2 separate regions of the Homo sapiens genome follow, and region 1 is linked to region 2. Evidence: fine-mapped expression QTL. A gene starts in region 2. The other region holds a variant in brackets. All regions are shown on one strand. Distances are between the middles of the regions. Region 1 has its middle 29 kb from the start of MIR548N. Region 2 holds the start of NPSR1-AS1 (NPSR1 antisense RNA 1).

What was found. PIP is the estimated chance that this variant, and not a neighbour inherited with it, causes the effect. A credible set is the group of variants that fine-mapping cannot tell apart.
Region 1: its variant is the best candidate, but not a certain one, in a credible set for the expression of NPSR1-AS1 in fetal neocortex (Walker 2019, PIP 0.77).

The regions. Positions count from the first base shown.
Region 1 is chr7:34,908,736-34,914,281 of GRCh38, forward strand. No RefSeq gene overlaps it. Among named protein-coding and RNA genes, the nearest start is that of MIR548N, 29 kb to the right of the region's middle. The variant T/C (reference allele first, on the strand shown) is at 2,949.
Region 2 is chr7:34,755,390-34,760,389 of GRCh38, forward strand. It overlaps NPSR1-AS1 (NPSR1 antisense RNA 1), which reads right to left and starts at 2,883. Exons shown (of 4, transcript NR_033665.1): 1 at 2,685-2,883. The region is part of intron 2 of NPSR1 (neuropeptide S receptor 1); the gene reads left to right.

The DNA of each region.
Region 1 (5,546 bases), 150 kb after region 2:
CTCTGCACCAAGTGGACCTAATAGGCATCTACAGAACTCTCCACCCCAAATCAACAGAATATACATTTTCTTCAGCACCACACCACACCTATTCCAAAATTGACCACATACTTGGAAGTAAAGCTCTCCTCAGCAAATGTAAAAGAACAGAAATTATAACAAACTATCTCTCAGACCACAGTGCAATCAAACTAGAACTCAGGATTAAGAATCTCACTCAAAACCGCTCAACTACATGGAAACTGAACAACCTGCTCCTGAATGACTACTGGGTACATAATGAAATGAAGGCAGAAACAAAGATGTTCTTTGAAACCAAGAGAACAAAGACACAACATACCAGAATCTCTGGGACGCATTCAAAGCAGTGTGTAGAGGGAAATTTATAGCACTAAATGCCCACAAGAGAAAGCAGGAAAGATCCAAAATTGACACCCTAACATCACAATTAAAAGAACTAGAAAAGAAAGAGCAAACACATTCAAAAGCTAGCAGAGGCAAGAAATAACTAAAATCAGAGCAGAACTAAAGGAGATAGAGACACAAAAAACCCTTCAAAAAATTAATGAATCCAGGAGCTGGTTTTTCAAAAGGATCAACAAAATTGATAGACCACTAGCAAGACTAATGAAGAAAAAAAGAGAGAAGAATCAAATAGATGCAATAAAAAATGATAAAGGGGATATCACCACCGATCCCACAGAAATACAAACTACCATCAGAGAATACTACAAACACCTCTACACAAACAAACTAGAAAATCTAGAAGAAATGGATAAATTCCTTGACACATACACTCTCCCAAGACTAAACCAGGAAGAAGTTGAATCTCTGAATAGACCAATAACAGGCTCTGAAATTGTGGCAATAATCAATAGCTTACCAACCAAAAAGAATCCAGGACCAGATGGATTCACAGCCGAATTCTACCAGAGGTACAAGGAGGAACTGGTACCATTCCTTCTGAAACTATTCCAATCAACAGAAAAAGAGGGAATCCTCCCTAACTCATTTTATGAGGCCAGCATCATTCTGATACCAAAGCCGGGCAGAGACACAACCAAAAAAGAGAATTTTAGACCAATATCCTTGATGAACATTGATGCAAAAATCCTCAATACAATACTGGCAAACCGAATCCAGCAGCACATCAAAAAGCTTATCCACCATGATCAAGTGGGCTTCATCCCTGGGATGCAAGGCTGGGTCAATATACACAAATCAATAAATATAATCCAGCATATAAACAGAGCCAAAGACAAAAACCACATGATTATCTCAATAGATGCAGAAAAGGCCTTTGACAAAATTCAACAACCCTTCATGCTAAAAACTCTCAATAAATTAGGTATTGATGGGACATATTTCAAAATAATAAGAGCTATCAATGACAAACCCACAGCCAATATCATACTGAATGGGCAAAAACTGGAAGCATTCCCTTTGAAAACTGGCACAAGACAGGGATGCCCTCTCTCACCACTCCTATTCAACATAGTGTTGGAAGTTCTGGCCAGGGCAATTAGGCAGGAGAAGGAAATAAAGAGTATTCAATTAGGAAAAGAGGAAGTCAAATTGTCCCTGTTTGCAGATGACATGACTGTATATCTAGAAAACCCCATTGTCTCAGCCCAAAATCTCCTTAAGCTGATAAGCAACTTCAGCAAAGTCTCAGGATACAAAATCAATGTGCAAAAATCACAAGCATTCCTAGACAAACAGAGAGCCAAATCATGAGTGAACTCCCATTCACGATTGCTTCAAAGAGAATAAAATACCTAGGAATCCAACTTACAAGGGATGTGAAGGACCTCTTCAAGAAGAACTACAAACCACTGCTCAAGGAAATAAAAGAGGATACAAAGAAATGGAAGAACATTCCATGCTCATGGGTAGGAAGAATCAATATCATGAAAATGGCCATACTGCCCAAGGTAATTTACAGATTCAATGCCATCCCCATCAAGCTACCAATGCCTTTCTTCACAGAATTGGAAAAAACTACTTTAAAGTTCATATGGAACCAAAAAAGAGCCCGCATCGCCAAGTCAATCCTAAGCCAAAAGAACAAAGCTGGAGGCATCACACTACCTGACTTCAAACTATACTACAAGGCTACAGTAACCAAAACAGCATGGTACTGGTACCAAAACAGAGATATAGATCAATGGAACAGAACAGAGCCCTCAGAAATAACGCCGCATATCTACAGCTATCTGATCTTTGAGGAACCTGAGAAAAACAAGCAATGGGGAAAGGATTCCCTATTTAATAAATGGTGCTGGGAAAACTGGCTAGCCATATGTAGAAAGCTGAAACTGGATCCCTTCCTTACACCTTATACAAAAATTAATTCAAGATGGATTAAAGACTTAAATGTTAGACCTAAAACCATAAAAACCCTAGAAGAAAACCTAGGCATTACCATTCAGGACATAGGCATGGGCAAGGACTTCATGTCTAAAACACCAAAAGCAATGGCAACAAAAGCCAAAATTGACAAATGGGATCTAATTAAACTAAAGAGCTTCTGCACAGCAAAAGAAACTACCATCAGAGTGAACAGGCAACCTACAAAATGGGAGACAATTTTTGCAACCTACTCATCTGACAAAGGGCTAATATCCAGAATCTACAATGAACTCAAACAAATTTACAAGAAAAAAACAAACAACCCCATCAAAAAGTGGGCAAAGGACATGGACAGACACTTCTCAAAAGAAGACATTTATGCAGCCAAAAAACACATGAAAAAATGCTCACCATCACTGGCCATCAGAGAAATGCAAATCAAAACCACAATGAGATACCATCTCACACCAGTTAGAATGGCAATCATTAAAAAGTCAGCAAACAACAGGTGCTGGAGAGGATGTGGAGAAATAGGAACACTTTTACACTGTTGGTGGGACTGTAAACTAGTTCAACCATTGTGGAAGTCAGTGTGG[T/C]GATTCCTCAGGGATCTAGAACTAGAAATACCGTTTGACCCAGCCATCCCATTACTGGGTATATACCCAAAGGACTATAAATCATGCTGCTATAAAGACACATGCACTCATATGTTTATTGCGGCATTATTCACAATAGCAAAGACTTGGAACCAACCCAAATGTCCAACAATGATAGACTGGATTAAGAAAATGTGGCACATATACACCATGGAATACTATGCAGCCATAAAAAATGATGAGTTCATGTCCTTTGTAGGGACATGGATGAAATTGGAAATCATCATTCTCAGTAAACTATCACAAGAACAAAAAACCAAACACCGCATATTCTCACTCATAGGTGGGAATTGAACAATGAGATCACATGGACACAGGAAGGGGAACATCACACTCTGGGGACTGTTGTGGGGTGGGGGGACGGGGGAGGGATAGCATTGGGAGATATACCTAATGCTAGATGATGAGTTAGTGGGTGCAGCACACCAGCATGGCACATGTATACGTATGTAACTAACCTGCACATTGTGCACATGTACCCTAAAACTTAAAGTATAATAATTAAAAAATAAATAAATAAATAAAAAGATTCTTCTGAAATATATCATGATAAAATGCAAATTGTAGTGAAGCTTGGACACAATAGAATACAGCAACAATGACTGGATCTGAATGATGTGCATCTTATTGAGCAGTGCACAGGGCAGAGCAGACACTAGCAAGTAATTAGAGGCATAAGACTTTCACAAGCGCACATATGCCAGAATTAATGGAAAAATCTGCTCATTTTTACTGGGTGCATAAATGACAGGATTTGTTGTTCAACTCCACCTATAAGCATGTAAAATAAAGAGCGCTCACAGTCTTTATTAAGGTCTTCTTTCTTTTAATTCAAATAAATCAAGTTATTTATTAATTCAGACATACACTGAAATGTTATTGGGGTCTTCTTTGAGTAGTGAGATTTTCTCAATTGTCCAAAATTTTAATAATAAGCGTGTATTACTTTAAAAATTAGAAAAACATTAAAGATTTAAGAAATGATTCTTGAGAATCAATTTATAATGCATTGTTTGAAGCCCTATAGTTGACATTTTTCAAATCCTTTTAATAACATTTTGATCCTTAGAACTATAAATTTTTAGAGTAGGTGGAAATCTTGCCAGATCATCTGATATAGCTCCCTGTTGTTTCACAGGTAAATTTTTGACTAGCCAGGGTCCCTCCCCCACTGCATGAGATTCTAATGAGATTGTCAATCATGGAGATAGGTGGGGAGTCAGGGAATTCAGAGAGGCTAGAGAACAAAATCCAAATTAAACTAAACTCACAGAGTAATTGAAATATTTATTTCTCTGGAAACTAATTAATCCAGAAGTGTTCACATGACTCAAACAGGGATAATCAGACTATTTCTGTAGAGAAGAGGATTGTTCTCTTTATCTTGGCTCACAGGTCAACAGAACATGTGTGTTTGGAACTGTCATTCAAACTTTGAGTGATAGATCTGCTTGGCCCAACTCCTTGGACTTCCCAGAAGTTGTATTAAGCCAAAAAGTTGTCTATGTGTGTGTGTGTGTGTGTGTGTGTGTGTGTGTGCGTGTTTGCTGAAGGTTTGCATTCATTTTCTGTCACATACATCAGAAGGAATTCTTAATAAACAATCACCCATAACTAATGCCATCTGTCCCCTTTGTTAAGATCTCCAAACATGAGGACCCTACAATATTCCTGGGTCTCTCAATTCAATGATTTTTGTTTTTATAATAAGTGGTAGCAAAAACAAAATTACATTTAACTTAAACTTTCTGCTAAAATATAAAGTTAAGAACTTCTGTTTCCACCAGATATAGAGTAACAGGAACTGTATATATGTTCTTACTGAAATAACCAAGAAAAACAGACAAAATATATGAAATAAATGTTTTCAAGTTACTAGATATTAGACAACAAATAGAGTGATTCCTGAGATGACTAGCTAATGAGGTGAGCCCTGTCATTGTCCATAATACCTTTTTCAGAGAGTTCACAGGCTATAGCATCAGGAGAAAAAGCCTAGATAGAACTTGACAGATTCCTTGAAGTCAAGAAACATAGCTGAGAGTCTAGAAAGATGAAGAGAGGTAGAGTTTGCAAGACAGAGTACCAAAAAGGTGAGAACTGCACAGAGAGTGATCTGTGGAGGTTCCTTTTCAAGTATTCAGCAAAGCACTGATTAGCATATATTTTTAAGGAAATGACCTGAGGCTGAGGGAAAATCACCTGGAAGGATCAGAGAACAGTGTCCAGGGCAAACACAGGATAGTGAATAGTGCCTGTTCTAACCAGCCAGACTGGAAAAAAACATAAATTGTGGTAGACTGGTGGAGTACTCAGGAAAGTCATACCTCAGTGGTAGGGAATACATAGCCCTAGACTGAGAACTGCTCTGGACCCACATAAACAATGACAAAATCAAGACCCAAAAGGATCAAACTGTTTCAGAGCAACTTGACTGCATCCCAGAATAAAGTTCAAAGATATTTATGGAGATATAAAAATAATCAGCACCAAGCAGGGTACAATTCACAATGTCTGACATTTAATCAAAGGTTATCA
Region 2 (5,000 bases):
TTACATAAATAGAACCTTACAGTATGTGTGCTTTTGTTTCTGACTTCTTTTGCTCAGCATTAGATTCAGGAGATTCATCAACATTGCTGCGTATAGTTGCAGACAGTTTACTATCCTTATTGAATGGTGTTCTACTGTGTGAACATACTACAGTTGCTTTTTTCATTCCACTAGTGGTGGGCATTTGGGTCATTTCCAGTTTAGGGCTACTATGAATACTGCTGCCTTGAACAGTCCAGGATACATCATTTTGTGAGCTGCTTATTTTTATTATTTGTGCTACCTGAATTTTGTATTATGTGCAGGTATTACTTTTTTTAAATGTCCTAAAAACACCTTTAAGGGCTTTTAAACTAGGATCAGAAACTTAGCTCCTTCCCTACTGACAAGCAGGCAGAAAAAAAAAATAATAGTAATAGCTAGTATTTACTGAATGCTCATTGAGCCACCTCTTTAGGGAAAAAAATCTTTTCATATATGTTTGCTTTTAATCCTCCAAATTACTCAAAGCCATAGGTATTCTCATTATGCCCATGTTAGACCTGCAGAAACTGAGACCGAAGGAGGTTAAATAACTTGTGCAAAACCATACAACTAGCAAGTAGGGAATCACAGTACAAATACAGGTCTCTGAATATAAAGCCTGTGCATTCACCCTCCAATTACACAGCCTCTGATTACACTCAGCTGGGAGTTCAGGGAGCCTGCTAGACATGGGGAGGAGAAGCTGAAATGAGAGCACCTGAAACTGCCAGCTCAGTCCAGCTCAACAGCTCGGATTGTTCTCCCCACCGCCCCCCTACTTCCTGTCCTAATTAATCAAATGCTCTTGAACATGAAAGAGAGTGAGATTGGATTTTTGTTAAGATGAAAGAAAGGAATCTGTTCCCATCTGGCACCTTCAAAACTCTCCTATTCAAGCCAGCAGGGAGCATTTATGCAACCTACATGGCAGTTTAATAATTCCCCAAGAATGCCAGGAGATTAAGCAATGTCACAACCGATCTGGATCCACCGGCACTTGAGAATAATGGAAAGAGCAGGGGTCTAAGGTCTAGGACAGGGGTCAACCAAATTTCTCTGTAAAGGCCCAGATATTAAATATTTTAGGCTTTGCAGGTCCTATGATCTCTGTGTCAACTACCCAACTCTGGCATTGTAACATGAAAGCAGCCATGAGCAAACAGGCATGGCTGTGTAACTAAAACTTCTTTTATGGCACAGATATTTGAATTTCATATAATTTTCATGTGCCTGGGCATATATTTCTTTTTTAAAAAATATTTTCTAACCAGTAAAATATGTAAAAGTTATTCTTAGTTTGAAAGCTGCACAAAAATGGAGGACAAAGTCTAGCGACCTGAATTCAAATCCTCTCTCTGCCATTTGTTATTTCTGTGGCTTTCGACATATTACTTACATTCACTAAGCTTCATTTCTCTCTTGAGAAAATGAGCAGAGCAGGTGCCATGCATTCAGGGCCTCCCTTGTGGCTGGCACTGAGCCACATGCTTTATATGCTTTACTGAATTAAATCCTACAATAACCACAAAAGGCTGAAATTATATGATTGCCTTCTTCAGATAGTTACGATGATTAAGAAATTATGTCTATAATTGTGCCTGAGCTGGCCTCCATAGTTCATTGAGTTTGATGCTTCCTGTTGTACGCAAAAATTGCCATGTTGGTTCGATGAGAGCATGCCTGCTTTTTCTACTACCTGTGGTGTTTTGAGTACCTATATTTGTATTGCACTTACAGTGAAAATTATCTAATTATATTATTCTATTTAATTACAATTGCATCAAGCTCCAATAAACAATCCAAATTTCACTGAACTGAAAGTTGAGTGCACACTTTGAATAGTCACTCCTTCTGTTAGGTTGGTGCAAAAGTAATTGCCATTACTTTTAGTAGCAAAAACAGCAATTACTTTCGCACCAACCTAATATATATGTGCACAGTAGGCAGTTTGGCTCAGGTACACTTATTCAAAACATTGCATTAAGTAAGATAATACATGTTAAATACCTAGCACACAGCCTGGGATGCAGGTGTCGGCCAGTGTTTGTTCCCCACTTCCTTAGTGACAAAGATTAGGCTTAGCTACTTTTTGGGAAAGGTGAGTGCCACCAGAAAGATGAGGCCAAGGCCTTATCAGACACACTGGAACACAGCCTTCCCAAGGAATAAATCCAGAATATTTTGTGTATGAGTTCTGGCTCTGAAGCCCAGCCTGTTCTTACACTGACCCCCCAGTTTCTGCCTTGATCAGCCACCCACTAGGCTGGGCATTGCTTCCTCTCACTCTGCTATCTAGTGACCCAACCTCGGCCCAACCCTCCAGCTTTCTTCTGGCCATGCGACTGTTCTGCTAGTCTGCTCCGCATATCTGCTCCTACCTTCCGATGCCTCCTCTGAGCTTTGGCTCCACTCCCCACTCAGCACAAACAACTTACTTTGCCCCAGTATGGGGTACAACAGCTCAGACTCTTCTAGAGGTCTAATCCTGGACACCTCGTTTGCTTTATAAGCACAATCTGGAAAGAAGAGTTTCATTGCTCAGAGCCCCTCAGGAAGCAGAAGAGGAGAGTGGTGAAGAGAGCATTCATCCTCTGGAATGACCATAACTGGTGTTTCAATCCCAGCTCCCCTCCATACTAATACTTGGGTGAGTTACTCACCAGGTCTATGCTTCAGTTTCTTCATCTGTAAAATGGAGGTTGTAAAAATATCATCTACCCCATAGGGTTATGGTGATGATTAAATTAGTTCTTCTATAGAAAGTGCCTGCAGCAGTGGTTAGCATGTGGTAGGCACTTTGTATGTGTTATCTGTTATGTCTGTTTGCTCTTACTAACATCTATATTTCTGAGTCCTAGACCTCCCCAGAGAGTGTGAAGTTCATGGTGTTTCATGGGAACAGATGTAAGCCCACTTGCTGAATCTCTCTCTGAGCTAATAATTAACAAATACATTGCACAGTAGCTTACCAGGAAAGCCTATACTGGTCTGAACAAGAAGAAACTTGCTGAACAATTCTAAAGCTCACTTCTCAATATAACAGCAGCCCTTGCTCAACATGTTGCCCATATCTTCAGTACCGTGCAGAGGTCACAGCCATCATATTCTGCCAGCTCTTCCCCTATGGGTTGAGCAACCATATGTGTCTTCCCAACCAGGACATTTTTCATTTTTAGCTTCTTGTTTTGACATAATTTCAGGTTTACAGAAAATCTTCAAGAGTAGTACAAATACCCCCATGTACCCTGTACACATATTCCTGAAATGTTAATATTTTTCATATTTGCTTTATCATTTCCTCTATCAGTCTATCTATAATACCTACCTATCTACCTATCCATCCATCTAAAAATGTCCCAGGTAATCAGCAAACCTGCTTTAAATGTCACCAATTATCCCAAGAACATCCTTTTTAGCACAAAAAACCCCGAATCATGTATTGTATTCAGTTGCCATGTACGTTTAGTGTTCTTTAACTTAGAACAGTTCCTTGGTCTTTCTTTGTATCTTATGACATCAACATTTTTAAATAGCATAGGTTAGATATTTTGTGGAGTTTCTCTCACTTTGGGTTTGTGTGATGTTTCCTTCTGAATAGATTAAGGTTATGTGCTTTTGAGAGTTATACACCAGGAATGATGCTATGTTCCTCTTAGTATATAGTATCAGCAGACACAGTATATCAATTTGTCCCATTACTAGTGATGTTATTGTCAGATTTCTCCACTGTAAAGATACTATTTTTCCTTTTGCAACTGACAAGTATTTTAAGAGTACATAGCCATCCTGATACTCCTTAAACTTTCACTCACAGCACTTACCATACAGTGTAGATTCCTGTCTGAATCAATGCTATAAAGGTTTCCAAATGATGATTTTCTAATTTCATTATTTCTTCTATACTTATTAGCAGTCTCTCTACTTTAAGGAAGAAATTTCCCTTCTCTCCCATTTTTAAATTTACATCATAGGTTCTTCTTTTATTCTGTGGGTTATAATTTGTTGCCATAGTTATTTCTTTTTATGCCTAGATTGCTGACTGGGGTCAGCAAGAGCCCTACAATTTGGTGCGTGTTTCTGTTGACATGTTTCTCAGCATTTTTGGGCATGTCCTCACTTGCCAGCACAACATGATGTTCCAGGCTTATCTTGTCCTTTTCCCAGCCCCAGGCCAGGAATCAGCCATCTCCAATGAGCCAAGTAAAACCATGGCATATTTAAGAGAAAGGGCCACAGGCATAATCATGGCGGGTATAAACTGAAACTGACCTAGAAATGCTGGGTCATATTCCCAATCTACCACTAGATGTCCTTCCACACCTCAATAGTTCTTCACAGGAAGCAGTCCTGGGGCATTTGGAAATGGTGGGATATTTGGAGTTATCACAAAGACTGGGGCAGCAGGGGTTACTTCTGGCATTTAGTAAGCACAGCCCAGGCATGCCAAATTTCCTGCACAGGACCATCTATCCTAACACAGAATTGCCCCATAAGTAGCAATCCTGTTAATAAATAGTGGCCCAATCCCTGAACTAATCTATCTTGTGTTCTAGTCTCTCAAGGATTGGCTTAGTTCTTTTCACCTTATCCGCCATCAGTTAATTTAATCACCACTGTTTCCATAGTGAGAATCTAATATATTAGACTGATCAAGTGTGTTAATCAAATATATTGGATTAGCTGGCATGCATTATAGCAAATAAAATAGCCAGTCTTCATTTTAGATCTAGTTTAAAGAAAGCCTCTACTTCTTATGTGTCAATTTTTGCAGAAAACATTATTCTAGCAAGTTGGCAAGGAGTCTAGGACTTATGTTAAGACACACCATCTCATCCCCAGTTCTTGCAGCTCTCTGTCTAGTTATTGGCCCTATTCATTGCATCAGCACCAACAACAGCTACCCAGGTTTTATAGGGCAAGCATTTTACTAAACATTTTACATAAACTATCTCATTTAACCTTCACAGTAGCCCTAT